Linked DNA regions of Homo sapiens. The protein of the gene in region 3 purifies or fractionates together with the protein of the main gene of each other region. This does not show direct contact. Each region holds a gene or a part of one and is shown on either strand. Other genes may lie near its edges. The genes, in order: MRPS33, LTV1, RIOK2, NKAP, PIP4K2A, MACROH2A1 and NSRP1.

Region 1 (3,500 bases), on a different chromosome or scaffold from region 3:
ATGTCATAGATTGTAACCTCTAATGTTAACCAAGCACATCTATTATGTTCACTGCTGTTCCCCTAGTGCCATCTTAAGTGCCTGCACGTGGAAGGTACGTAAGAAATATCCACTGGATAGTGAATGTACCAATCTTTAGTGATCTGCAATGAATGTTGTGCTGTACTATTAATTCTATTGTATTAGAATAAATGGTTCCCAATAATTTTAGTATTGTTGCCCAAAGACAACTCCAATTACAACTTGTTAAATTTTTAAAAAGATGGTAGGTATTTTAACTTTATACAATTATGTACTATTTGAATTCTTTTGTAATGGGCATGTATTAGTTTGGTAATTAAAAAAATAATTTTTTTTTTTTTTTTTGAGACCGAATCTCGCTCTGTTGCTGGAGTGCAGTGGCACGATCTCGGCTCACTGTAACCTCTTCCTCCTGAGTTCAAGCGATTCTCCTGCCTCAGCCTCCCAAGTAGCTGGGATTACAGGCATGTGCTACCACACCCAGCTAATTTTTGTATTTTTAGTAGAGACGGGGTTTCACCATGTTGGCCAGGCTGGTCTTGAATTCCTGACCTCAAGTGGTCTGCCCGCCTTGGCCTCTCAAAGCGCTGGGATTACAGCTGTGAGCTATCATACCTGGCCAAAAAAATAATTTAATGAGAAAGATCACACAGGTATTTGATTTTTTTTTTTTTTTGAGATAGAGTCTTGCTTTGTCACCCAGGCTGGAGTACAGTGGCATGATCTTGACTCACTGCAACCTCCATCTCCTGGGTTCAAGCAATTCTCTTGCCTCAGCCTCCCAAGTAGCTGGAATTACAGGCGTGTGCCACCACGCCCAGCTAATTTTTGTATTTTTAGTAGAGACGGGGTTTCACCATGTTGGCCAGGCTGGTCTCAAACTCCTGACCTCAGATGATCTGTCTGCCTCGGCCTCCCAAAGCACTGGGATTATAGGCCTGAGCCATTGTGCCTGGCCTGATCTTTTTTTTTTTTTCAGAGATGCACACAGTTCTAAGCACCTACTCCCTAGACATACACACACATACAAACACATGGTGTTAAGAACCTGTGTGATTTACGTATTATCCTTAAAGGCAAACTACAGCTTATCTAGACCAAATTAATATGTCAAAAAGGGTACAAAATAAAAATGCCAGAAGACAGTAGGAAGAAATGTCAACAAAAATGCCACCAGAAGAGAAAGAAGGCTCCCACATACCAGTTAAGCAGCAGATCAGGTGTCGGTCAGGGACTCTGTTCATCTGATAACAAGAGCCCACTGCCCTGGCAACCTTGGTGTTTCTGAGGCTTTCTTCCTCAGTACTTGGACCAGTTTTTCTCTGCATTGTTTTTTTTTTTTTTTTCTCGAGATGGAGTCTCACTCTGTTGCCAGGCTGGAGTGCAGTGGCGCGATCTCGGCTCACTGCAACCTCCGCCTCCCAGATTCAAGCAATTCTCCTGCCTTAGCCTCCCGAGTAGCTGGGACTACAGGCGTGCACCACCATGCCCAGCTAATTTTTGTATTTTTAGTAGAGACAGAGTTTCACCAAGTTGGCCAGGATGGTCTTGATTTCTTGACCTCGTGATCTGCCTGCCTCGGCCTCCCAAAGTGCTGGGATTACAAGCGTGAGCCACTGCGCCTGGCCTCTTGGCATCCTTTTTAGAGTGCTCTTAGATTAACAAATGATTAAACACCTCTCTACAGCTCAGTATCTATTCAACATTAGTCATGTTGTAGACATAATTAAAATATATCTTCCAACAAGCATGAATTTCCTTTTTTTTTTTGGTCTCTCCATTATGGGTATTTTGAAAGAAGACTTTCTCCTGCCAACTGTACCTTTTGAACTACCTGGGCTCTATTATAAGAACAAAACTACAAGGATAGAAAGGCTAATTTTTTTCCTTTTCTGATCTACTGAAAAAAAGTCTCTCATAGGTCCCTCTTTGTGTTTGTCATCACCTGTAGAGTCCAAGAAATCGGAGCGTCTGCATGAGTTCAGCGTAAGTGTGGTGATTTGGATACCAATCATAAGTCTCCTTCTTCTTGGCCAAGGGCAGTTCACTAAACAGTTTCACCACTTTCATAGACTTGGAATTAGTAGGCCTGGTGACTTCACCAAATAGCCGGGCACTGAGACGAGACATGCGGAAGGCATATTCTGAAAGGGAGGACATTTCTTGAGTGGCAAGGAGTTAGAGTTCCTATTGAAAATGAGAAGAAAGTTAAACAGGTTAGGGTAAGAAATTCCAAGATTAGCTAATGAATAAGTTAGAAAATGCAAACACAGCAAGCCACTCATGGATCAGTGCAGTGTTGGCAGGATATGCCTTGGAGTGGAGAAGTATCCACAGTCCAAATGGCTATTTCCTTTCCATGCTTTACAGCTGCGATTTTTGCACTTCGTGTTTACATGCTATTACTTCCTTGCTGTATTGCCTCCTTTGCAACCAACTATTTTGTGATTCACCAGGTTATTTACTGACAGTCAGTTTACCTATTTGTAGGCTGGGGATGAAGAAGACAGGGAAACAAGTTATCCTAATCCAGCATCATTATACCTTCAGAAAACACCCACCTAAGCAATCTGCAGCATTAATATGCTGACTGCTTGCCATCAAAAGGTGTAATCATGGCAGAGACATAATTATGTTGTCTTTACTATCAGTCCTTTGAACACTGTTCTCCTCAAGGGCTCCAGAAGGCTCTGAGAGCTGCTAATGAGTTATGAGGTCATTTGGCTTCTAGGTTACTGAACTGAATTTTGCCTAGAGACTGAGAGCCATTTGGGAAAAACAGACAGTAGCCCTATAAAAATAAATCCAATAGCTCAAAAGATCCATTTTCTTACTAAATAGAAGGCACGTATGAATTGTAAGGTTACTTGCTGTATCCTCCATCTTATATATTCTGCTTTAATGCAAACTACCTAAGTTCTTATCAGCTGGAAACAGTAGCTTTTTCTTCAGAGACATACAACACTGAAATGGGTATAAGAATGATATCCGTGATATGCACGAATTACAGCTAACAGACATAAAAAACTATACAGGGGATACATAAAAATCAAGAAAGCTGCTGGTGGAATAACTATCTCAACTCAGTTTAGACCAGACGTAGGGGTTATTGTTGGCAGAATATGCCAATTTATGAGAAATTTTAGTAGTGAGATGAGAATCTTTGCTGACTCAGAGACTATCCTGGGAAACAGTTCAGCTGAGATGAAAAGGTGCTGATATTCAAGCAGGAAAAAGGCATAAACTTTGAAAAACCAATGGGAGAAATGTACCAAAAACCCTCCTACATAAAAATGGTGCCAAGTGAATTTCAAAATAGTTCTTGTAAGAAAACAAACCGTGTTTAAATTAAGGAAGTTTTAATGCCTGTTTCAAGATCCATTAACAGAGGAGGCTGGGCATGGTAGCTCATGCCTATAATCCCAGTACTTTGAGAGGCTGAGGTGGGAGGATCGCTTGAGGTCAGGACTTCAAGACCA
Region 2 (3,500 bases), on a different chromosome or scaffold from region 3:
TCTTACACAATAGTTATTCAGGTACTATCACAATTACCATTAAAATATCAGTAGGGATTTAATGCAACAATAGGATGTGGAAGATATTTCTGCTCAGTACTTTAAGACTTACATTTAGCCTAAAAATAGGCTTCCATTTAACATGTAAATGAAAGGCATTATTCCACTCAGCTTGGAGAACAAAATGCTAGGCAGCACAGATTACGTCAGAACATTTTTGAAGATACTTTTTCTTTTTTTTAAGTATCTCACTGTCTCCCAGCCTGGAGTACAGTGGCGTGATCATAGTTCACTGCAGCCTCAAACTCTCAGGCTCAAGCAATCTTCCCACCTCAGCCTCTCAAGCAGCTGGGACCACAGGCACATGCCACCATACCAGGCCATTTTATTTATTTTTTTAAATAGAAACAGGGTCTGCACTGCCCAAGACAGTCTCAAACTCCTAGGCTCAAGTGATCCATCTGCTTCGGCCTCCCACAGTTCTGAGATTATAGGCACGAGACACTACGCCTAGACTAAAGATATTTTCATATTCCTTAGTTATGCAAACTAAAAGATTGTGCAACTGAAAATTCACCTACTAATGTATATATTTGTTCTTGTTTAGACAATAATTACTATATTATGCAAATGGTGTTGACACTGTTAAGCTTTGACAAAGAGTAAATGGGGGGGATATATCTCCTGAAGAGTGAGATTTGTAGCAACAGTTTGTTTCTCCCTCAAGAGAAGAGGGAAAATAGTATTAGGTGAGAAGGTAGCAAGGTAACAGCCTTTATTTTAGATTCACCTGGATGGCAACTATTCCTTCATTCATTTATCATTTATGGAACACTTTAAACTTCTATTACATGCCAAGACACCATTTTAGGCTTTTGGATGTATCCGTGAGCAAAATACAAAGAACTCTCTGCCCTTGGGGAATTCACATTCTAATCTGAGACAAATCTATATATAACATACATAATAAAGCACAACATTAGAGATGATGTTAGGAGGTGTTATGTGCTACAGAACAAACAACAGGATAGGTGGGATTAAAAACCTGTATAAACAGTCTATAGGTTGGGATTATAAACCCTGGAGCTAATCTGTTACAACAGAACCAAATAGAGTATATGAAAATACAAGCTTTCAAAAGTGTCTTATACTCTACTTCCATTCTATTCCTCAGTGTTAGTTATGTCTGAAAACACCAGATGAGAAACGGAAAGAAATGGAATTTTGATGTGCTCAATCAGGCCAATACTTCAGAAATATAGCATCTTATGGATTACTGTTGGAGAAATTCAGAATCAGGATGTCAGAATTCAAGGGGGAAAATAAGAACGTTTGATCAGCCAACTCCTTTTGACCTACACACGTTCTTTCCAGAATCAAAACTAGGGTGACTGGCCTCATAGAATATGTAAAGGGAAAACGACAATAACTAAGGTGCTTTTATGCTCTGTTTTAATAAAGAGATACGCTGTTTTCAACACTCAAAAGTTTTAGCTTTGGGTCCCAATCTCTCTTTTTAAAAAATAAAAAAAGAAAAATAACAAAAAAAAACAAGGCACACAGCAAGGCGCCTAACATCTACTTAGCTCGCGGGCGGATCAGCTGACTTGGCCAGAGGATGTTCCAGTTTCCAGATCAACCTCAACCCGCTCGGCTTCGTCAAGGTCCTTGAGTGGACTGCTTCTATCTTTAGAGTCACCTTGAAGGAAACTATTCCTTCATTCATTTATCATTTATGGAACACTTTAAACTTCTACTACATGCCAAGACACCATTTTAGGCTTTCAGATGTATCGTGAGCAAAATATAAAAAACTCTCTGCCCTTGGGGGATTCACATTCTAATCTGAGACAAATCCATATATGACATACATAATAAAGAAGCACAACATTAGAGATGGTGAGGGTTTAAGGGCCACTTCTGGGGGTTTTAAGGGCCAAATAGAAACTCAAGTGAGTTGTCCTACCACAGTTAGTGAGAATAAAACTATTACAGCTACTTTTGGTTACCCATTCAGGTTGAATGAGGCATCATTTGAGCCACCTCCTGGTGTAAGCGTGTGATGTAAATTGGAAAAGTCACATCCTCCTAACCAATTACTCTTCTTCTGCACAGTTCTATGCTCCCTTTGCAGTCTTTGTGCTCCTGTACTGCACTGATACCCTTCTGCTTTATGCTGGCTACACGAACCTATAGCTGGATAGTTGTAAACTTCCTATGATTGACTTTGTGGTTGGTGAGCACTTCAACCTGGGCTAAAGCTGACAGGTATTAAAAAAAAAAATTTAACATAAGATAGTACTAAAGCATCCCTTATGTGGGGACCTTACCTTCTCAAACCTCTCATCATGTAGGGTCAGCTGTTCATTTCTCCTCATGACTGAGGAAGTCATCGAATACTCCGTGAAGCGACTCTTTGTTTCCTCACTCCAGAACAAGTGATCTGCTATAGCTCTGTGAGTTTTTCCGGGCACAGACATACAGTCTTCATCTGACAATAGGCCTGCAGAGTCATAGTCATCATTGCTATCTCCCTTCTCATCATCCACATCTTCCCACTCGCTGTCATCTTCATTCTCAGATTTCCTAAAGTAAAGGTCATAAATTACCTACCAAAACAACTTAAAAAGTAACAGAACAAAACCACTTTACACAAGTAAAATTGGAAGGTATTTCAGGAAGGGTTCTTGTCTAGGCAGGAAGAGTGAGGGTGTTTGATCAATCTGGTTTGGTAGGAAAAGCAATGAATCTCACATTTTCTGCTCTAAAATACAGAAGTCTCAGATTAAATGCTCTTGAAGGTCTCTTCCAACTGTAACGTTCTATGGTTACCATCCCACTGAAGCAGTAACACTTAGGTCATCATCTCTGCTTTGAAACAAACCACACATACTGTATATCCATTCCCTCTTCCTCTCCTGTTGCCTTATTGGCCTGAAGAATAAAGTCATCCTCAAGCAGATTATCTGGATCATCAAAGTCAAAATCATCATCAAGAGCTGCAACAATGTCAGGATCAAAATCCAGTCGAGGTCCTAGAAGGAAAACAAAAATTAAGCAGTAATTCCCAAGATAGCAACAATTCATTCACTTAACTCACAATATAAGGACCTATGATAGCAAGAGTCTATTAATATATTGAGGATAAAAGAACGATTAAGAACTAAGTTCAGTCTAGTGAAGAATAAAGAATGAACACTCCAAGACAAAAAAAGGAAACAAAATGCTGCCTCAGCCCCAGTCAGGACCTTATAAATAAAACTCCCATCTTCCTGGGACAGAGCACCTGGGGGAAGGGGCGGCTGTGGGCACAGCTTCAGCAGACTCAAACGTTCCTGCCTGCCGGCTCTGAAGAGAGCAGCGGATCTCCCGGCACAGTGCTCAAGCTCTGCTAAGGGACAGACTGCCTCCTCAAGTGGGTCCCTGACCCCTGTGCCTCCTGCCTAGGAGACACCTCCCATCAGGGGTCAATAGACACCTCATAGAGGAGAGCTCTGGTT
Region 3 (3,500 bases):
TTAGCACAGCTCCTTGGCCCCAGAACTGGTTCATAAAAATTGAAATTAAATCACAATGTCTCTCCATAGAACGATGCAGCCTAAACCTAGAATGTCATAATCTGTCACACTCTGGAGGCTCCTAGATGTTCCTTTACTGTGTGACTATGTTACTCCTTATTAATAAAAATCATGATTAGTCATCATCCAAAGAGTACTGACCACCCCAGTGCCAGGCATTAATCTTTTAGTATTATTTTGTTGAAAACGTTTTAAAAATTTATTTTCAAATGACATTTCTTTCTGTAGCATAAGTATAGACATTTTCTACTGGAAACCAGGATGAAGAGACGCTTCACTTAACAAAACTACTTCAAGCTCAATCTCTGGAAGAATTAATATACTCTATTATATAAGTGATACTAGTTGTTAGTTTAGGAAAAAAGTTTCTCATAAAGCTTGGAACAGAAAGAAAAAAAAATCCTTAGTTACACTCAATTGAATCATAAACCTCAAGCAAATAAAGGATAAGGTCCTGTTTCATGACTTGGCTGGCTTGGTTTAAATAAGTAATGTGAAGAATATGATTATCGCAGTATATCATGATTCTGCACTGTGTCAGAGATAAAGTTTTATGTGATTTTTTTTCTAATAAATAAAGCTAAAAGTGACAAGAGGTAATTATCACTGGTTTGACAACTGAGTCCAGTCCAAAACCACAACTTTTATTCAGATCATCGAGATTACTGAGTTATACTTGGTGAATCTCTCTTGGAGGCAATCATGGAACAGCAAGAAAAAGGGAAAGACAAAAGTGGTTCTAGAGTTCCCCACTACACTCCCTACTTTTACCTGTTTTAACAATTGGTCTTCCATCTAAAAGTCTGTTTGAACAAAGGGTTCCATGGCTAAGAAAATTTGACTTTTGAACGTCTGTCAATTTACAACAGAGAAATTCAAATTCTTATGGGGAAAACTCTAGTAGTTATACTTTAATAAAAAACCAAATTTTTATAACGTTAACACTAGCCACTTCAAACCAGTGACTGACCTAAATAATAGTATCACAAAATTGAAAAATTATGAAAAAATGATTATATTCTAAACAAACACACCCACATCCAGAATCAATAATAGCATGTAAGGGCCGGGCGCAATGGCTCACCCCTGTAATCCCAGCACTTTGGGAGGCCGAGGCGGGTGGATCACCTGAGGTCAGGAGTTCAAGACCAGCCTGACCAACATGGAGAAACCCCATCTCTACTAAAAAAAAAAATACAAAAAATTAGCCAGGTGTGGTGGCACATGTCTGTTATCCCAGCTCCTCGGGAGGCTGAGGCAGGAGCATTGCTTGAACCCGGGAGGTGGAAGTTGCAGTGAGCCGAGATCGCGCCATTGCACTCCAGCTTGGGCAACAAGCAAAACTCCGTCTCCAAAAAAATAAAATAAAATAAAAATAAAAAAATAGCAAGTACGTACCACTCAGCATTGGGATGAGAAGTTGAAACCATCTGTGGAAAATCAATCATGGTGATATGGTCACTTTCATCCAAAATGAGATTAAATTCATTAAAATCTCCATGAATCAGCCCATGATTTGCAAGTTTGACAATTAGTTCCATAGCTTCATCATATACTGATGCAGGATCTTCAACATGGTGTATCTGACATCTGAAAGTATTTTAAGCATGAAAATAGGTTACTTGTGTTCATTTACGGTTTTAACGAAAGTATGTATGCATGTGAACATATATATTATTTCCATGCTGTGTATCCCCAGCAGCTTTCTTCTCATTCCCATCAGCACACAGATATAATATCTCCCATCTATTAAAAAAATAGCCACACTGCTTCAATTCTGTATCTCTTTTCTACTACTACCTTTCTTTGATCTTTACAGCCAAACTTGTCTACATGTGCTTTTCCAATTTGTTTCCTCCTACTCTCTCATACCATTTCAAACAGGCTTTTTATAACGTTAACACTAGCCACTTCAAACCAGTGAGTGACCTAAATAATAGTATCACAAAATTGAAAAATTATGAAAAAATGATTATATTCTAAACAAACACACCCACATCCAGAATCAATAATAGCATGTACGGGCCAGGCGCAATGGCTCACCCCTGTAATCCTAGCACTTTGGGAGGCCAAAGTGCTTCCAAGATCACCCTTGTTGAGACTACAATGACTTCAATGTTGCTAAATCCAAAGGTCAATTCTTAGTCCTCATCATATGTGGTCTGTCAGTTGACCTCTTTGAACATTTTCTTCACTTAACTCTTGGGACACCATTCTCTCCAGGTGTTCTTCCTTCCTCACAGATCATACCTTCTTAGTCTTTTCTATTTGTACTTCATCTTTTTCCTTGACCTCTAAATTCTGGAGTTCCTCAAAGGTCAATCCTATGACCTTTTATTTTCTCTTATTTAGACTCATTCTTGGTGATCTCATCTAGGTTAATGGTTTAAATACCACATATACACTGATTTTAATGTAGACTTCTCTAACTCCCAGGCATCTCAAACTTAGCATGTCCAAAATGGAATCTCTGATTCTGTCCCACCCTCCAACTCCAAAATGCTGTTCCTGTAGCTTTCCTGTTTCTATACATGGTAGATTTCTCCTTCCAGTTAATTTGCTACTCAGGGGAAAAACCTTGGTGTCACCATTGACTCATCCCTTCCTTCACATCCATATCCAATCTCAAATCATGTTGGTTCAACCTGCAGAACACATTCAGAATCTGACCACTTTTCATCACCTTCACAACTATCACTGTAATCAGAATTACAACCATTTCTTGCCTAGATTATTGTAATAGCCTCTTAACTTGTCTTCCTAATTCTTTGTCTCCCCAGAGTCTATTAATTCAGCAAGCAGAGTGACCCTCTGAAAACACTGAGATCACTGATTGATGAGATCACATCTCTTCTCTGCTCAAAATACTCCCACTCCAATAGCTGCTAATCTGAATCAAAATTTGATGAGGTTTCACCTTATTAGTGAGACTTTTCTTGACCACCCTACATAAAACAGTAGTCTCCTGTCCCGTTAGTACTTCCTATCTCCCTTACTCTGCTTTTTTTTATCCATAGTACTTACTAACAATTGATATACATTTCCTTTAGTTATTTATTGCACATCTCCTTCCATCAGAATGTAAATTCCATGAGGGCAGGGACTTTGTTTTGTTCACTGCTGAGATTAAAAGTTCCTGGCACCTAACAGTCTCTTAATATTGAATGAATGAATGAATCACAGAGATTACAAAGTTCATATTGTCAGAATGAAACTGGGTTTTTAATTTGTCTTTGAGTCTATTCCTTTAAATAAATTTTAACCTCCCAGAGGCAATATTTCATTAACTAAAAAAAATTTTATTAAAAACCCTGAAACTTAAATTCATTTATCAGGATTCATGGCTTTAAGAATAATGAATACTTACAGTGGATAACCATTTATGAGTTCCATGACCACTGCATGACGATTGTAATCAATTGGCTTTGGAACTGGAAATT
Region 4 (3,500 bases), on a different chromosome or scaffold from region 3:
CAAGCGATCCTCCTGCCTGGCCTCCCAAAGTGCTGAGATTACAGATATGTGCCACTGTGCCTGGCCAGTTTTTTGTTTTGTTTTGTTTTAAAGAATGCCTATCTTTGTGAACCCGGGAGGCGGAGCTTGCAGTGAGCCGAGATCGCGCCACTGCACTCCAGCCTGGGCGACAGAGCGAGACTTCATCTCAAAAAAAACAAAACAAAACAAAAAGAATGCCTATCTTTTAGAGAAAGGTACTGAATTGCTTATGGATGGAATGATATCTGAGATTGGGTCCAAAATAAATGATGGATGGCAGATACTGCCCATGAGTTGATAATTATTTAGACTGCATGACAGGTGCAGGAAGGATCATTATACTATTTTATGTAATTTTATATGCATTTGAAATTTTCTGGCCGGGTGCAGTGGCTCACTCCTGTAATCCCAGCACTTTGGGAGGCCAAGGTGGGAGGATCACTTGAGGTCAGGAGTTCGAAACCAGCCTGGCCAACATGGTGAAGCCCCATCTCTACTAAAAACACAAAAATTAGCCAGGCATGGTGGTGGGTGCCTATAATCCCAGCTACTCGGGAGGTTGGGACATGAGAATCGCTTGAACCTGGGAGGCGGAGGTTGTAGTTAGCTGACATCGAACCACTGCACTCTGTTGCCTGACAGAGTGAGACTCTGTCTCAAAAAAAAAAAAAAAAAAAAAAAAAGAAAAGAAATTTTCCATAATAAAACTTAAAAAACTGACGATCTGTGTTTCTTCTTCTTTTCCTTTTTCTTGGCTTTCTTTGCTCTCCTTTTGTTATCTTCATCTGCAAATTAAAGCACATTACAATTAAGAAAAAAATTTTTTAACTCTAAAACCGTAGTACTTTTGAGTAGGTAACTATCCTATTGCTGTCCCATTTATTGTTACAAAGAAATTACCTCATTGAAACATTTATTGCTATTTGTCACGAACTGTAGGGAGGTACTATGAACATAGAAATTAAAGTCACTAGGTTTTGATGATATAGGGTATTATTATTAATTTTATTGTGTGAGATAGTGTGGTGGCTAATTAGGAAAATGCCTCTTTTTACGGGATGCATACAGAAATATTTAGGGTGGAAGTGTGATGATATTTGTAATTAACTTTGACTATCTCAGTGAAAAACCCATATTTGAAGCAAATATGTAAAAATACCAACAACTGCCAAATCTAGGTGATTAAGTATATGGTATTAATTATACTATTCTCTTCGCTTTTCTGAATATTTAAATATTTTTGTGATAAAAAGGGAAAGAAAACTATGTGTGTGTTGGAGAGGGGAGAGAGAATCCTTTCCTGGAGCTCAGTCTAATGGAGGAGACAGATAGGTAAAGAGATCAATACAATCTGGAATGATAGAGGGAAGCTTGGGGAACCTGGACACACAGAGGAGTCTCAAAATCAGACTGATTTGAGGAGGGTGGCTGAGGAATGGTTGATCAGGAAAGGTGACTCTTAAAGTAGTTCTTTGATTACAAAAGTAATGCATGCCCATTGGTGCAATGAGTAAACCAAGCTGGATGGAGGGAGAGACTGGCATTGTAGGCAGAGGGCCTCTCTACCAAGTAACAAGAGAAAGAACATGGAATACTGAGGAGACAGAAAGTAGTTTTCAGATTACAGAGGATGTTGCAAGAGAGTGTAACAGGGTATATGTGATTAGAGAGAAATGAGTCAGGGTCTGAACTTTACCCTGAAGGCTATGGAGTGCTATTGAAGGATTTTAAGTAGGTATTTGGTGTATAGGGTATTATTACTAATTTTATTGTATGAGATAGTGTTGTAGTTAAGTATAAAAATGCCTCTTTTTAAGTGTTGCATACAGAAATATTTGAAAGTTCTGTCTTCGAGCACTGAGGAAGAGAAGTGACAGGGAGGGCCAGGAAACTTCGGCGATATCAGAGGAAGGTGAATCTTTGTGTAATGTGTTAACCTCAGAGGAGGCACCTTCTGGTCAATCATCAGCCAGGAGAGAGTACAAAAAGGAGACTCTTTGTGATGCACTACCCCAGATAGGGTGCCTTCCACAAATAGGCAGCCAGCATGAAGTAGGCACTTTATGGCATACCTTTTTGAAAACTGTAGAGGTGCTCATTGGGCATGAGAATTAAACAAAAGAGCCCTTCCACTGGGCCGATGCAGCCCTGTAAGGCTTACTTTGGTACAGCCCAACCCCCTGACTTGGTCTGGTGCCATGTGCCTTGTACACTTTGCACAACCAATCCCAATCCGGAGTCAGATTGCTTAGGTTTGAATCCAAACTGTGTGACCTTAGGGATAGTACTTATAACCTGCTCTGTCTCCATTTCCTCATCTATAAGATGTACCCTACAGTTATTGTATGGATTAAATGGCAATAATAAATATAAAGCACTTATTGGGGTACCTGGCACAAGGTTAGCAAGTGTTCAAAAACTCTTCAGTATTATTATTGTTTTCAGGAACCTTCTTCTAAAATAAGTTTTAAGAAGTAAAACTAGTTTTGAAGCAAGGCTTGCAGAATGCTGTTGGCGTTCTTACCACTGGAGTCTGTTTCAGAATCAGAGTCACTGTCGCTATCTTCAGAATACTTCTTATGTTTTCTTTTCGATGATTTTTTCTTTCTCCTTTTCTTGGACCTTTCTTTTGAACGGCTAGACTTCTTCTTTTTTTCTTCTAAGAAAGTACAAATTAAAAAATTATATTCTAAAAAACTATTTCTGAACATCAAAAGAAACAGACGATGGGCAATTTGAGTAAAAGCAAAGTCTAATGTTCAACTATTTACAAACTGATTTTTTTAAATCTCTCAATAAAATAGCTTGTATTTTAAAAATACCCTTTTTTTAAAAATACCTTCTGAAGTAGAAGCTGAAGTAGTGCTTTTCTTTGGCTCTTCATCCTCCACTGGTGTATGTTCATCAGAACTGAATTTAAATAAAATGGTTATAAGAATTAGGAAAGTGATGAGATATGGACCATGGAGTGTAAAGATATGAACTCCAAATTTTTCAGTAACAGCATCGATTGTCCAAGAACCATTAAAAGCAAGCATTGGAGATCCTAAGGCAGAACTTGGGAATCAAAAAAACCAAAACAACAACAAAGCAAGCACTGAACTACTTTCATAAACGTGCAGTTCAAGGGTCTACCATCTTTGTAATAATAAAATAACTTATCATTTGCATAACACTTTAGAGTTTACATAGTACTATTTAAACAAAGCAGCATGGAGGATTTATATTTTCACAAGAAACCACAGGGAAAAAGTAGAGAAACAGGAACCATAGGAAAGATTAAAGAAACTGGGTATAAGAAGGCTGAAGAAAGACTTTATAATTTTATTTTAAGCACGTAAAAGACAAATGGTAAAGCAGCAACTGTTCTGTCTCCTCAGAGCAAAAACCTAACAAACTACAGTCTAAAGAGATGTTGTTCTGTTGCAGAGAATTCTGAAAATGAGTATTATTCAAATTCTACAATAGTTTAGAAAAGG
Region 5 (3,500 bases), on a different chromosome or scaffold from region 3:
GTTATCTGAGAAAGAAAGCTTTTAAATTTTTCACGTAAATATTTGTTGGATTAATGGACGTGATTTATATATTGAACTCATCTGTGTGCTCTTTACTTCCCTTACAGGAACTAAGTTTAAAAATAAAGATTGGGGTGGGGCATGAATTTACCAAAAGAAGAACCTCCATTCAGGGAAGGAAGAAGACACGTGGTCCCAGGACTACAAGAGAAGGAGGTGGGTTGGACATGAGTCAAGAACAAAAGCAAAGATGTGTTTCCAAAGGACAAAGGGTAAGATCAAGTTCCAGTGAATGAAAGGGACAGCTTTGGACACAATTTTGAAAAACCTGAACTTTCTCTTCGTTAACTATTTTTGCATGTTGACTTTCCTTGTTGCTAGCAATAAAAACCATGTCAAAGATTTATGCTTCCAGTAGGATAGAAGGCAGGTACGCTGAAGGATTCTCAGTTACAAAAACAAAACAAGCAAACAACAAAAGAATGAGCTGCTTGATAGAGCTATTTGTTTTTTTTAATCACATTGCTGGGTTCACAGACAGTAGAGGCAATCTCCAAGACACCTTTCTTCCCCCAAAGTGAGTTTAATCCACAGGGAGTGTGGGGACCATTAAGCAAGCCTGAAAGGAGGGACTCCGAGGACAAATGCCAGTTTCAACACTTACTTGGGCCAAACGAAAGCTGGGAGCTCAACAAAGGCTTCAACGTTAACCTGAGATCCTTGAAGGAAGCCTTTGAAAGTGGCCCCAACACCTGGTGGAAGTAAATGTAAATGATCTCCGGAGGAGAGCAACCCCTGCCAGGCCTCCAGGCTTCCCACAGATGAAGATCAATCAAACATGAGCTCACAGAGACAGCAACGACTAATTAATATTTTCAAGACTTTAGTTACTAAGATGATCAGATATAGAATTTTTTAAGCTGTGAGAAATTATACAGAAATAGAAGATGAACAAAAGATGATTATATTTGAAAAAATAATGATTCAGAATTTTCCACAATTAATGCACGTTATAAATCTGTAGATACAGTTGGGCACAGCAGCTCATATATGTAATCCCAGCAATTTGGGAGGCTGAGGCAGGAGGACTGCTTGAGCCCAGGACTTTGAGACCAGCCTAGGCAACAGAATTCGTCTCTAACAAATAAAAAAATAACAAAAGTTAGCTGGGCGTGGTGGTGTGCACCTGTAGTCCCAGCTACTTAGGAGGCTGATGAAGGAAGATCACTTGTATCCAGGATTTCAAGGCTGCAGTGAGCTGTGATTGTACCACTGCACTCCAGCCTGGGTGACAGAGTGGATCCATGTCTGTTAAACAAAAAACAAACAACAACAACAAAAAAAAAACAAAAAAAAGCAGAATACTCAAAGCAATATATAAGTAAGAATACTCAAAGCATACCTAGATACGCTGTAGTTAAACTAAAGAAGGCCAAATGCAAAGAGAAGAAAGGAATGGTGGCCAGAGAGAAAAGGCAAACACAACAGAGGAATGATAGTGACAGCTGACAGCTAGCTTCTCAAACCCACTGAACAAAAACAGGAATCTAACGTCATATAGCTTCTCCAGTTCACTTTACTCAAGCATCTTATGATACTAAGTCATTCCCAGAGTATATCTATGAAAAATTAAAGTTTATGTATCCTTATGCTATCAGTGGAATATCAAAGTTTGAAAAATAACAGAAAAAGAAAATCATAATGGAAATCCAAGTCTTGTGATAATAAACACAATGCGAATGAAGCTGGATGCCAACTCAATCAGCACTTCGATATCTTGTGGAACAAGAGAAAGCGAAACCCAACGTGGAGGTGGGATCAGACACTGATTATTTAAATGCGCGTGATGTGTTCAGCAGATCCTCCAAAGCTTTGATGCCTCCTCAGGCTGCTTAAATCAGTATCACTTAAGAGAGTCTTCTCAGACAGGAAACAGGAAACCAGAAACTTTCTGCATCCTTTTGCTTTATGGTACCTGCTCTGGAACATGTTTTGTGGAGAAAATATGAAAACTTCAGCCAACATGGAATGAGTAAACTGAGAATTTTCCTTATTGATTTTCCTTCCCCACCCATCCTCGCGTCAGCACAACCTTTAAGAGTCCACTCTGTGCTGGGCACAGCTCGGACACCAGTCTTTGTCCTCTTGGGGCTTATGGTCCAGAGGGGCAGACACATTAACTGAAGAACTGCCCCAAGTGTTGAACTCTAACAATGACAGAGTCAGGAGGGAGAAGCACAATGGGCTACGAGCAAGTATGGAAAAGGCCCAGGCCAGATGGGGGAGGCATGTGAGGCTTCCCTGGGCAGCAATGGCTCGTGGAGAAAGGAGAGGGCAGGTGGACAGGGCTTCCAGGAAGAAGGCGAGTCCTAGAGAGGAGGGGACACTGTTAATGGGAAAACAGTGCAGAAATAGACAAGGTGCGTGGCATGAAAGGGATGAACAACAGGCCCAGGAGCACCGGGAAGCGGCTGCTGTAGAATTGCACCAGACAGAGGAGAGCAGCTCAGCAGAGGGCGGAGGCGGCAGCAGAAACGAAAGAAGCAGAGAGACTCCGGCATGCTGAAGTGCTGAAATCTATGGGGCTTGATGATGACAGACTAGAAATGTAGGGAAAGATGGAGGGAATGCTGCATGCATGCGGGGGAAGCTGGTGGGTCCAACGACTGGCACAATGCATCTTAAGAGAAGAGTTCAGTTTTGAGCTTGTTAAACTTCATGCGCTCTTGGGACATCTAAGTGTCAATGTCAGGTAGGCCGTGGACAGGTGGGTCTGAAGTTCCCAGGGGCAGCAGGGGCAAGAGATAAAAATGTGTGTATCTGTGCATCAGACATTAGCTCCCCAGAGGAGTGGATGAGGTAACCTGGAGAGGGGCCGGTGTGATGGGGAGGAAGGCGGAGAAGCAGTCTTCAAGAACGGGAATGTTTCCAAGCCTGGAGAAGAGGATGAGAAAGGGGAAAACTGCCATCGAGGCAGGAAGTGAAAAAGCACAGGGCCACCCAATGGGAGTGAAGGGAAAAGGGGGTTCAAACATGCTATGGGATGATCATGATGCTTTTGAGAAGGCAGGGACTGGGAAATGTCAGCCAGATTGAACGGCACAGGAGGTCCTTGGCAACCTTGGCAGAGTTGTTTCGGTGGAGTGTAGCAATGGAACCCAGACTAAGTTGAGTTAAGGAAATGCTGGCACTGCACAGGGCTGATTTCTAAGGAGCCTGGCAGGGAAGGACAGGAGCGAGATGAAGAGGGATGAGGGACAGAGGGAGGACCTGACAGAGAAGGGACATTCCGTAGCACTTCTCGAGAAAGTGGGAGGGGATGGGATTCAGGCATGCAGGAAGGAGAGGCTCTGAGGAGGGAAGCGACTTTCCTGTTCACAGGAGGGAAAAGAGATAGGTGTCATGGGGAGGGAGCAGAACTGATGGAGGGAAGATGGGGCTCCCGACCACTGGCTCCTATTTTCTCTGGGGATTAGGGCCATGGCCACCTGCTAAGAGTG
Region 6 (3,500 bases), about 38 Mb from region 3:
TCCATCAAAACTCAACTGAACGCAAACTCAACGTGTCAGAACATTTGCAGCCTCAAAATAATTGTTTTGGGTTTCCAACCCTTCTTCTTCAAGTCGACTGGTGTGCTAATTATCGACTTGCACACCAATATGATGTATTTGTCTCTACTATGATGTATTCTCTAAATCTCCCAAACCCAATTCAGGACAAAGCTACTAGGAAAGCAACTGCTTTAAATGATCTGCTAAGCAACCTGACCAGCATCTCCACTCTGCCATTGTCTTCTCCCTGCTGAGGATGGCCTCACTGTGTGAATAACGGATCCTGTTTATTTGTGGCAGAATTAGATTAGTTTTTAAGGAACTGTGTTTTTCTTTTCCTAGAAGAGGGGCCCCTTTCTAGCTATACATCTCCACCAAAGACTTGCCTTTCCCTTGCCAGATCTAAGGACACAGGCCTGGGGTCTGCCACAAACTGCAAAGTACCATGTCTCCCAGAGCATGTTCCAGAACCCCTGTCCACAGATGCTCTGCAAAGAAGGTTTCCAGGGCACTGGGTTTAGCTGCATGCTACGCTTCTATACAAGAGCACACCAGAGTCTCCACACCACTGCTAAAGTAAAACATCCAAACTTTTTGTATTTGGTTGGCTATTTCTGAAACTTTTTTTTTTTTTAAGGAATATCTGTCCAAGGGGTATGGTTTGTTATGGTCGTGTCATAGATACTGGAGAAGGAGCGATTTGTGGGTAGTGTCTCATGGTACAGTGGAAACAGCTCAGTCACAGGGTGTGAATTTGAGTCCTGGCTCTGCTTTGTGACTGGGCTTGAGAACTCTGGGCTGACCTATAAAAACCTGACATTGGGGGTTGAATTAAACCAGTGGGTTTGTCCCCATGAGAAGTCATGGCTAAACTATGCATAGAAAACGACTGGAAAGAAACATTAACAGTGACTATCTTTGCACAGTGGAACAGGAGTATGTTTTATTCACCTCTTTATACTTTCAAAAATATTTTAAAGCAGTTTCTAAAATAGCCCTTAAAATCAAGAACAAAAGTGTTATTGAAACAAGCAAAAATATCTTGAACCATGCTATACCTAATGGGTTTGCATCTGCTGTGGCTGAGGTTTCCCCAGCAGAGTTTGGTACATGGCAGCACCAGGCTGCCTACCAGGCCTTGTGCCAAGGGCTACCAGCAGGACTCAAGCTGGAACCCCGATGGGAAAGGACCCACAGGCTGGTCAAACAGGTGTTTTAAAGGGCCTGGGGAAAGGCCAGCTGCCCCTGGCTAGGTAGTTAAAACTGTGTATGCCTTCCCTTGTACAATGTGGGACTTTGGTGGAACTGCCTGGGAGAACTTCATAATTACTACCCTGTATGTCATGCCCCTTGCAGGTAAAACAGAAGTGGCAGAGCAGAGGTCAAAGGCACAGATCAGCAAAGGGAATCCTACTGGATCCTGAGACTAGCCTGGAAGGGGTGTCATTTGTCACTGGGAATAGAGGTGCACGGCCTGGTGGACCCTCCGAGAGAGCTTAAGATTCATTTTTAAAACAGAGGATTTAAAAGACACAATAGGCATTGGAATCGGGTAGTAAGAAGAGAAAACCAGAGCCCCAAGTGAGGAAGTGGGTGATCTGTCCTCACACAGTTGGTGGGGGAGCTGGGCCTCCCCACTGACTGGACTCTCAGGTCCTTAGGAGGTGCTCTGTCCTGCACACCCCAAATGACCACCTAAATTCAGGCCTGAAGCAGTAAGAAGTACCCTGCCTCCAGGTCTTAGCAATAATTCTCCCCACATCAGATGCCAAGTCGTTTTCTTCCCCTTATACCAGGGAAGGTGTAATTGGCAAATGAGAAATGTGTATTTATATGTTTCCTCTTACACACACAGATGGCTGAAGATTTTTAATTTGTATCTCTCACCAGCAGTTTTGCAGATGGCTCAGTATCACTCACTCTCAGCTCTTAGATGTACCAAACTCAGCTCCTATAATTTCTTAAAATTTGTGATCTAGACATCAAACATATAGGAGCTATTTTAAGTAATAAAAAAAAATGCAAAGGTGATTTTCCCAGACAACCTGCATGTGGTGAAACTCTAAGATGTAAAGCTACAGGCTGTCCTTGGCCTCCATCTTGAAGATGCGGCTGTGCTGCCACACACCTCTGAATTCTAAGCCCTCTCACAAAATGGCTTTCCTAATACTGCATGTGTCACAACCAGATAAGCACGGTGGCTTTCCCACCTCACCTCCAGCTACTTCCAAGGGCCCGTTCTTTTTCCGGAGTTCCAGGACAGCTTCCACAAACTCCTTGCCACCTTTCTTCTCCAGCGTGTTTCCTAGACAAGGACAGGGTGGGGTCAGGTTGCCATTCTGTGTCTCCGGCACACACAGACACTTAGCATGTCAGGTGATTACATACTTCAAATGATCTATTAAATTTCCATCAGGCTGCAAAACAGGAACTAAGCCTTGGCTAAGTTAATAAAGTAAAATTGAGAAGGGCTTTGTCATCACCAGTTACTACCCTCAAATTGCTGCTTCATCTGGCTGTCTCTGCTGCCCCTTATTTGGGTCTGACTCAGGGTGATCATGGATGTGCCAGAGATGTGAAAGAGACAGGACATGCTTGTTTTTTGCAAACATGCTTGTCCTGGATGCTTTTCATTGGCATGAGATACTAGCTGGTACTGGTTTCCAAGACTAATGCCTGCCTTAGGTTTTCTTCTCTGTCTCTGGGGAGAACCCCCAAGTAAGGAGGTTTCAGCAGCATACAATGCTCCCATCAATAAGCCAGCTCTCCTCCTGGCAGCAGGCCTAGAAGGAAGTGTTCATACCTGGCCACCTTTGGACCAGCATTATTACCATGCTTAGTTCCTGTTTTGCAGCTTTGGTGTCATATGCAAATACAAAATAAAAATGGCCTCAGACGGTATTTTCTTAATTACACTAATGATTCAGAATTGTTTTCAGTAAAGAAGGGCAACATCAGAAGCAGAGCTTAAAGATTAATCTGTGTTCTATAAAAAGCTTGGAAAGGAGGATGTCTAACTGCTCAGGACCAGATTTTTCACAAAAGCCAATGGAGATTGGGAGCAATGTGTTTTCTTCAATTAGGGCACTTGCTAAGTAATCAGTTCCTGCTGTGAAAACCAAGTTCCCAAACAAGATCACCAACACCTATGAGAACTCTGGGTTGATGCTCATGTGGGATAGCAAGTGGCAATCAAAGTTAGCAACAAGATCAGCCTTTCAAGTTTGGCCAGAATGGGGTCTGAGTCTTCCTTAAGCTCTGATTCCTCAGTTTTGCACATTTTAAAGTACTTTTCCTCACAAGAGGACAAAATACTCCCCTTAAGATTCACATCTGTCTTGGAAAATTCCAGGTGCACCTGGCACAATTCTGGTATGGGACGGTCAAGGTGCATCGGAATGCACCAGCCCAAATTCTCTTTGGAGTCACCCTGCGATGACCAGGGTTAATTATCTTAGTGAAACTTGCCTCCTTTGAAT
Region 7 (4,160 bases), on a different chromosome or scaffold from region 3:
TATATTTCATCTAGTCAGCATTCTTATTAAACCAAGTTTATCCTTCTAAAAATAAGAAAGTGTGCTCTTTAGGTAGAGTATTGTGAGATATATGAACAGCATTTTCTTAATGGGAAGACCTAGTAGAGAACTATTTTCTCCACAGCATTCATCTTTCCCCATAAATAAAATATTTACAGTGTATAATTATTTCTCCTGAGTTTCAAAGACTCAGAAGAAAGATACTAGTTTTATTTTTATACACAAGTGGAACTTGTAATAAACTGCACTATCTTTTTCAGAGTAGGTGAAACAAGACATGTTTAGAAACAGGCCACCTAGATCTTTAGCTAATTTCATTTAGGCTAATGTCTCCACAGCTTCACCTTTAACTAAAAGTGATTTACATATATAACCAATTTACTAACTTGTCAAGGTTTCAGAATTACAAATTAATTTCTACTAAAAGCGAAAAGATGAATTGTGACATGAGTAAAATTATTTTAAAATAAATGCATAAATAAAATGTATAAGCATATCATTTTATTTTCATTTAAGCCAACTATGCTGTAAGCTATTTAGACAAGATGATTCACATTTTATACTTAAATACAAATTTCAGAACATAAAGTATATTTTCTGTTTTTCAAATCCATATTTTATCTGAAATACATTTCCTGCAACAAAACATTATTAGAAGAGTTAAATTATTTATTTAAAAAAAATTTTTTAGAGACAGGGTCTCATTCTGTTGCCCAGGTTGGAGTGCAGTGGCATGATCATACCTCACTGTAACATCAAATTCCTAGGCTCAAGTGATCTTCTTGCCTCAGCCTCTCGAACAGCTGGGACTACAGGCATGGACTACCATGCTAGGCTTTTTGTTTTTTAAATAGAGACAAGGTCTTATTATCCTGCCTAGGCTGGTCTTGAATGCCTAGCCTCAATATCCTTCTGCCTTGGCCTCCCAAAATGTTGGTATTACAGGCACGAGCTACCGTATCTGGCCAAAATTATTTTTTAATGGTTGTAGTGGAGCAAATTTTCCTCATTATGTACCTACAGGGAATTAGCACACTCTTAACGGTTCTTGAATACAACAAAGAATGTGGTATTGATGAGTACACACTATATATAAATTCAGCCAAACATCCACATCCAAACATCCAAGCTGTAAGACTGACTTTTAACTTAAAATTTTGAAAATAAATTTAAAAATGCCCTCCAAACTACTGGTAACACACTCCTTTATGGTTTTACGCAGCAGGTTCCAGGAATTACAGTTTTCTGTGCTTCCTTAAATCTTTCTCTTGGGGTAGCCATCAATCATCTTCTTTCTCAATATAGGTCTTTGCATTAACCCGCGCCATCTGCCTGGCCAAGTACCTGTCTCTAGCTGACATTACAGTTTCTTCATTGTTCCGCTTTGCAAACTTGCTCACTGCCTCAGGTGGTCTCTCTTGTTCTTTACCCTTCTCTTGCCCTTCCTCTGTGAGTCTGTGTTTTGCTCCCAGTGATGATTCAGAATTAGAGGGTTTCTCTTGGTTTCTTTCTTTGTCCTTTGCCATGTTTCTCATTTTGTTGGATCTTTCTTGGTCAAGAAATTTATCCTTTGCCCTAGAATTTGGGCTGCTTTCCTTTCTGTCTTGATTTCTTTCTGAAGACTGAACACCTACCTCTCGTTTTTCTCTATCTCTGTATTTATCATTATTTTCATATCTTTCCTTCCTTACTTTCATATGCTCTTCCTTTGCTTTGCTTTTCTCTTCCTTCTCTCCTTTCTCACTGGGTCGGTTCTGATCATTTTGTTGTCTATCTCTTTCTTGTTCTCTTTGGGAATATTTCTCCCTATCTTTCTCCCTTTTCCATACTCTGTCACTTCTTTCTCTTTGGTCCCTCGCCCTTGGTTTATCTTCCTGTTCATGCCTCTTCCAATGGGAATCTCTATGACTGGCCTCTCTGTGCCTATGAGAATCCCTTTCTTTCCGGTAATCACGGTCAGTGTAATGGTTCTCTTGGTCTCTGGATTGCTTCTGCTGGTGCTGATCTTCCCTTTTCTCATGTCCTCTCGACGTTCGTGATCCTTTCGTGTGGTGCCTGGTACTGTGCCCTCTTTCTTCACTAGGTGACCGAGAGTGGTTTTGACTCCTGTGGTGCTTGAAGTCATTCTCAGGGGTCTCTATGACCTTTTCCCTTCTGCAGTTCACTCTAGTTTCTTCTATTTCATCATCCGCACTGCTCTTAGCATCGAAGTCACTGTCTGCATCTGGGTTTTCCTCTACTTTCACATCAGTTTGAAGAATGCATTTCTCTTGTGGTATTCTGTTTTTTGAACTTACTTCATTGGAGAAGCCCCTTGATTTTTCTTCCTTTATACCAGATCTTAGAAACAAAAAACAAAAAAGGGCAGAAAAAAATGCCACATTATCAGTTGTAATAAGCAAATGAAGGGTTCATATAATTTTTATCAATACTCAAATCAATACACCTATAGTGATATATACTGTCTGATTATCCAAATGCAAAAAGGTCCTGATGTCTATGCAAACTAGTATTTTCAAATTCATACCATTCAGAATATTTTCAATATTTGTAGAAGTGAAAAGAGAAAATTAGCCCTTGTCTACTATACTACTAGAACCTACAGGCAAGGGTCTGTACAGGTCTTCATTTTTTGGTAAGCCTAAGACAAAGAATAATTGGGAAAAGTAATAAATGTTCTGAATCTAAGTTCTATTTTCACAACATGAAGCTTAAGTTGTGACTGTTGGATTTGTTGTTTCCTTTCTTATTTATTTATTTTGAGACATTCTGTTACCCAGGCTGGAGTGCAGTGGCACAATCTCGGTTCACTGCAACCTCTGCCTCCCAGGCTCAAGTGATCCTCTCACCTTAGCTTCCCGAGTAGTTGGGATTACAGGCCTGCACCACCATGCCCAGCTAATTTTTGTATTTTTAGTAGAGACAGGGTTTTGCCATGTTGGCCAAGCTGGTCTCAAACTCTTGACCTCAGGTGATCCAACCACCCTGGCCTCCCAAAGTGCGGGGATTACAGGTGTGAGCCACCATGCTTGGCCTTTTTCTTTTTAAAAAATTATAAAAATAGTCCTAGAAATACATGAAGATAATCTTTGCACAGCAAAATAGTGGCAAATATAATCCTAAATATTTACTCTCTCTCATGAGTGTATCCTGATTCACTCCTTGGCACCTATCACAACAAAATGGAAATATATTAATTTGTCCATTAGAATCAACAATACTAAAATTATATTACCTTCATTGTTCCAGCTGGCAAGTACAGTTAACTTTATAGTATGAGTATAATGTAAATAAGAACCACTCAGTGATTCTTACTAATCACTTACTAATCACACTAATGGTGCAACAACTTTGGTTCTCCAGGAATTACTGGCAGAACTATCTTGGCTAAAGGACCCACTAACAGTTAGGAATTCGATTATTAGACTCTAAGAAGTACAACTATGTCAACGACATTACAGAGTTTCATGGCAGCCTAATAAATATTCCAGATGAAACTCTAATACAAAGATATAACGTAATATAATTTCCATTCAAAACCTGAATCTTCAAATACATTTTCTTAGGTTCATACTTCTCACCAATTTTATAATCAAAGCCTAGCAGCGTAGGGAGGGAGTGGGGCATAAACTTCCTCTCCTCACCTTAATTCTATTCTCCTACCTCTTCCCTTCCTTAGCAACACAGACTCAGATCTACCCAGAACATTCCTGTTAAAAAAAATTTTTTTTTTTTTGCTTAGGACAGACTCTTTTACCTTCAGCTACATAATTATGGCATAATCATCTCACCATTCCTATAATACCTTATAACTTTATTCAAAAATCCTCTAATCCTTTACCTTCTAGACCAGCATTAATAGAAATGCCTCAAGAAATGGTAATGTTCATATGTGAGCTGTCCCCAGTATGGCAACCACCAGCCAAATATGGCAACTGAGTATATGAAATGTGGCCGCTGTGATCAAAACTTTAAATTTTATTTACTTAATTTTATTATTTATTTATTATTATTATTTTTTGAGACAGAGTCTTGCACTGTCACCCAAGCTGGAGTGCAGTGGCGCAATCTCAGCTCACTGCAACCTCCGCCTCCTGTGTTCACGCCATTCTCCTGCCTCAGCCTCCCAAGTAGCTGGG

The links.
Region 1: the proteins of RIOK2 (region 3) and MRPS33 fractionate together in Homo sapiens (co-fractionation; one large-scale study listed by BioGRID). This does not show direct contact.
Region 2: the proteins of RIOK2 (region 3) and LTV1 purify together in Homo sapiens (affinity purification with mass spectrometry; one large-scale study listed by BioGRID and IntAct). This does not show direct contact.
Region 4: the proteins of RIOK2 (region 3) and NKAP purify together in Homo sapiens (affinity purification with mass spectrometry, with the first as the bait; one large-scale study listed by BioGRID). This does not show direct contact.
Region 5: the proteins of RIOK2 (region 3) and PIP4K2A purify together in Homo sapiens (affinity purification with mass spectrometry, with the first as the bait; one large-scale study listed by BioGRID). This does not show direct contact.
Region 6: the proteins of RIOK2 (region 3) and MACROH2A1 purify together in Homo sapiens (affinity purification with mass spectrometry; one large-scale study listed by BioGRID and IntAct). This does not show direct contact.
Region 7: the proteins of RIOK2 (region 3) and NSRP1 purify together in Homo sapiens (affinity purification with mass spectrometry; one large-scale study listed by BioGRID and IntAct). This does not show direct contact.

Annotation. Positions count from the first base shown.
Region 1 is NC_000007.14:141,008,453-141,011,952, forward strand, and holds part of MRPS33 (small ribosomal subunit protein mS33), read right to left. Parts: intron 2,209-3,500; 5' UTR 2,182-2,208; coding exon 1,967-2,181; intron 1-1,966.
Region 2 is NC_000006.12:143,856,838-143,860,337, reverse strand, and holds part of LTV1 (protein LTV1 homolog), read right to left. Parts: intron 3,036-3,500; coding exon 2,894-3,035; exon of another isoform or gene 2,757-2,893; coding exon of another isoform or gene 2,755-2,756; intron 2,587-2,754; coding exon 2,331-2,586; intron 1-2,330. UniProt on the Homo sapiens protein: Essential for ribosome biogenesis.
Region 3 is NC_000005.10:97,169,748-97,173,247, forward strand, and holds part of RIOK2 (serine/threonine-protein kinase RIO2), read right to left. Parts: coding exon 3,428-3,500; intron 1,651-3,427; coding exon 1,459-1,650; intron 1-1,458. UniProt on the Homo sapiens protein: Serine/threonine-protein kinase involved in the final steps of cytoplasmic maturation of the 40S ribosomal subunit. Involved in export of the 40S pre-ribosome particles (pre-40S) from the nucleus to the cytoplasm.
Region 4 is NC_000023.11:119,933,752-119,937,251, forward strand, and holds part of NKAP (NF-kappa-B-activating protein), read right to left. Parts: intron 2,932-3,500; coding exon 2,861-2,931; intron 2,681-2,860; coding exon 2,546-2,680; intron 807-2,545; coding exon 743-806; intron 1-742. UniProt on the Homo sapiens protein: Acts as a transcriptional repressor. Plays a role as a transcriptional corepressor of the Notch-mediated signaling required for T-cell development. Also involved in the TNF and IL-1 induced NF-kappa-B activation.
Region 5 is NC_000010.11:22,610,079-22,613,578, forward strand, and holds part of PIP4K2A (phosphatidylinositol 5-phosphate 4-kinase type-2 alpha), read right to left. Parts: intron 1-3,500. UniProt on the Homo sapiens protein: Catalyzes the phosphorylation of phosphatidylinositol 5-phosphate (PtdIns5P) on the fourth hydroxyl of the myo-inositol ring, to form phosphatidylinositol 4,5-bisphosphate (PtdIns(4,5)P2). Has both ATP- and GTP-dependent kinase activities.
Region 6 is NC_000005.10:135,343,732-135,347,231, forward strand, and holds part of MACROH2A1 (core histone macro-H2A.1), read right to left. Parts: intron 2,327-3,500; coding exon 2,237-2,326; intron 950-2,236; exon of another isoform or gene 1-949. UniProt on the Homo sapiens protein: Variant histone H2A which replaces conventional H2A in a subset of nucleosomes where it represses transcription. Nucleosomes wrap and compact DNA into chromatin, limiting DNA accessibility to the cellular machineries which require DNA as a template.
Region 7 is NC_000017.11:30,182,816-30,186,975, reverse strand, and holds the end of NSRP1 (nuclear speckle splicing regulatory protein 1), read right to left. Parts: intron 2,362-4,160; coding exon 1,302-2,361; 3' UTR 501-1,301; downstream 1-500. UniProt on the Homo sapiens protein: RNA-binding protein that mediates pre-mRNA alternative splicing regulation.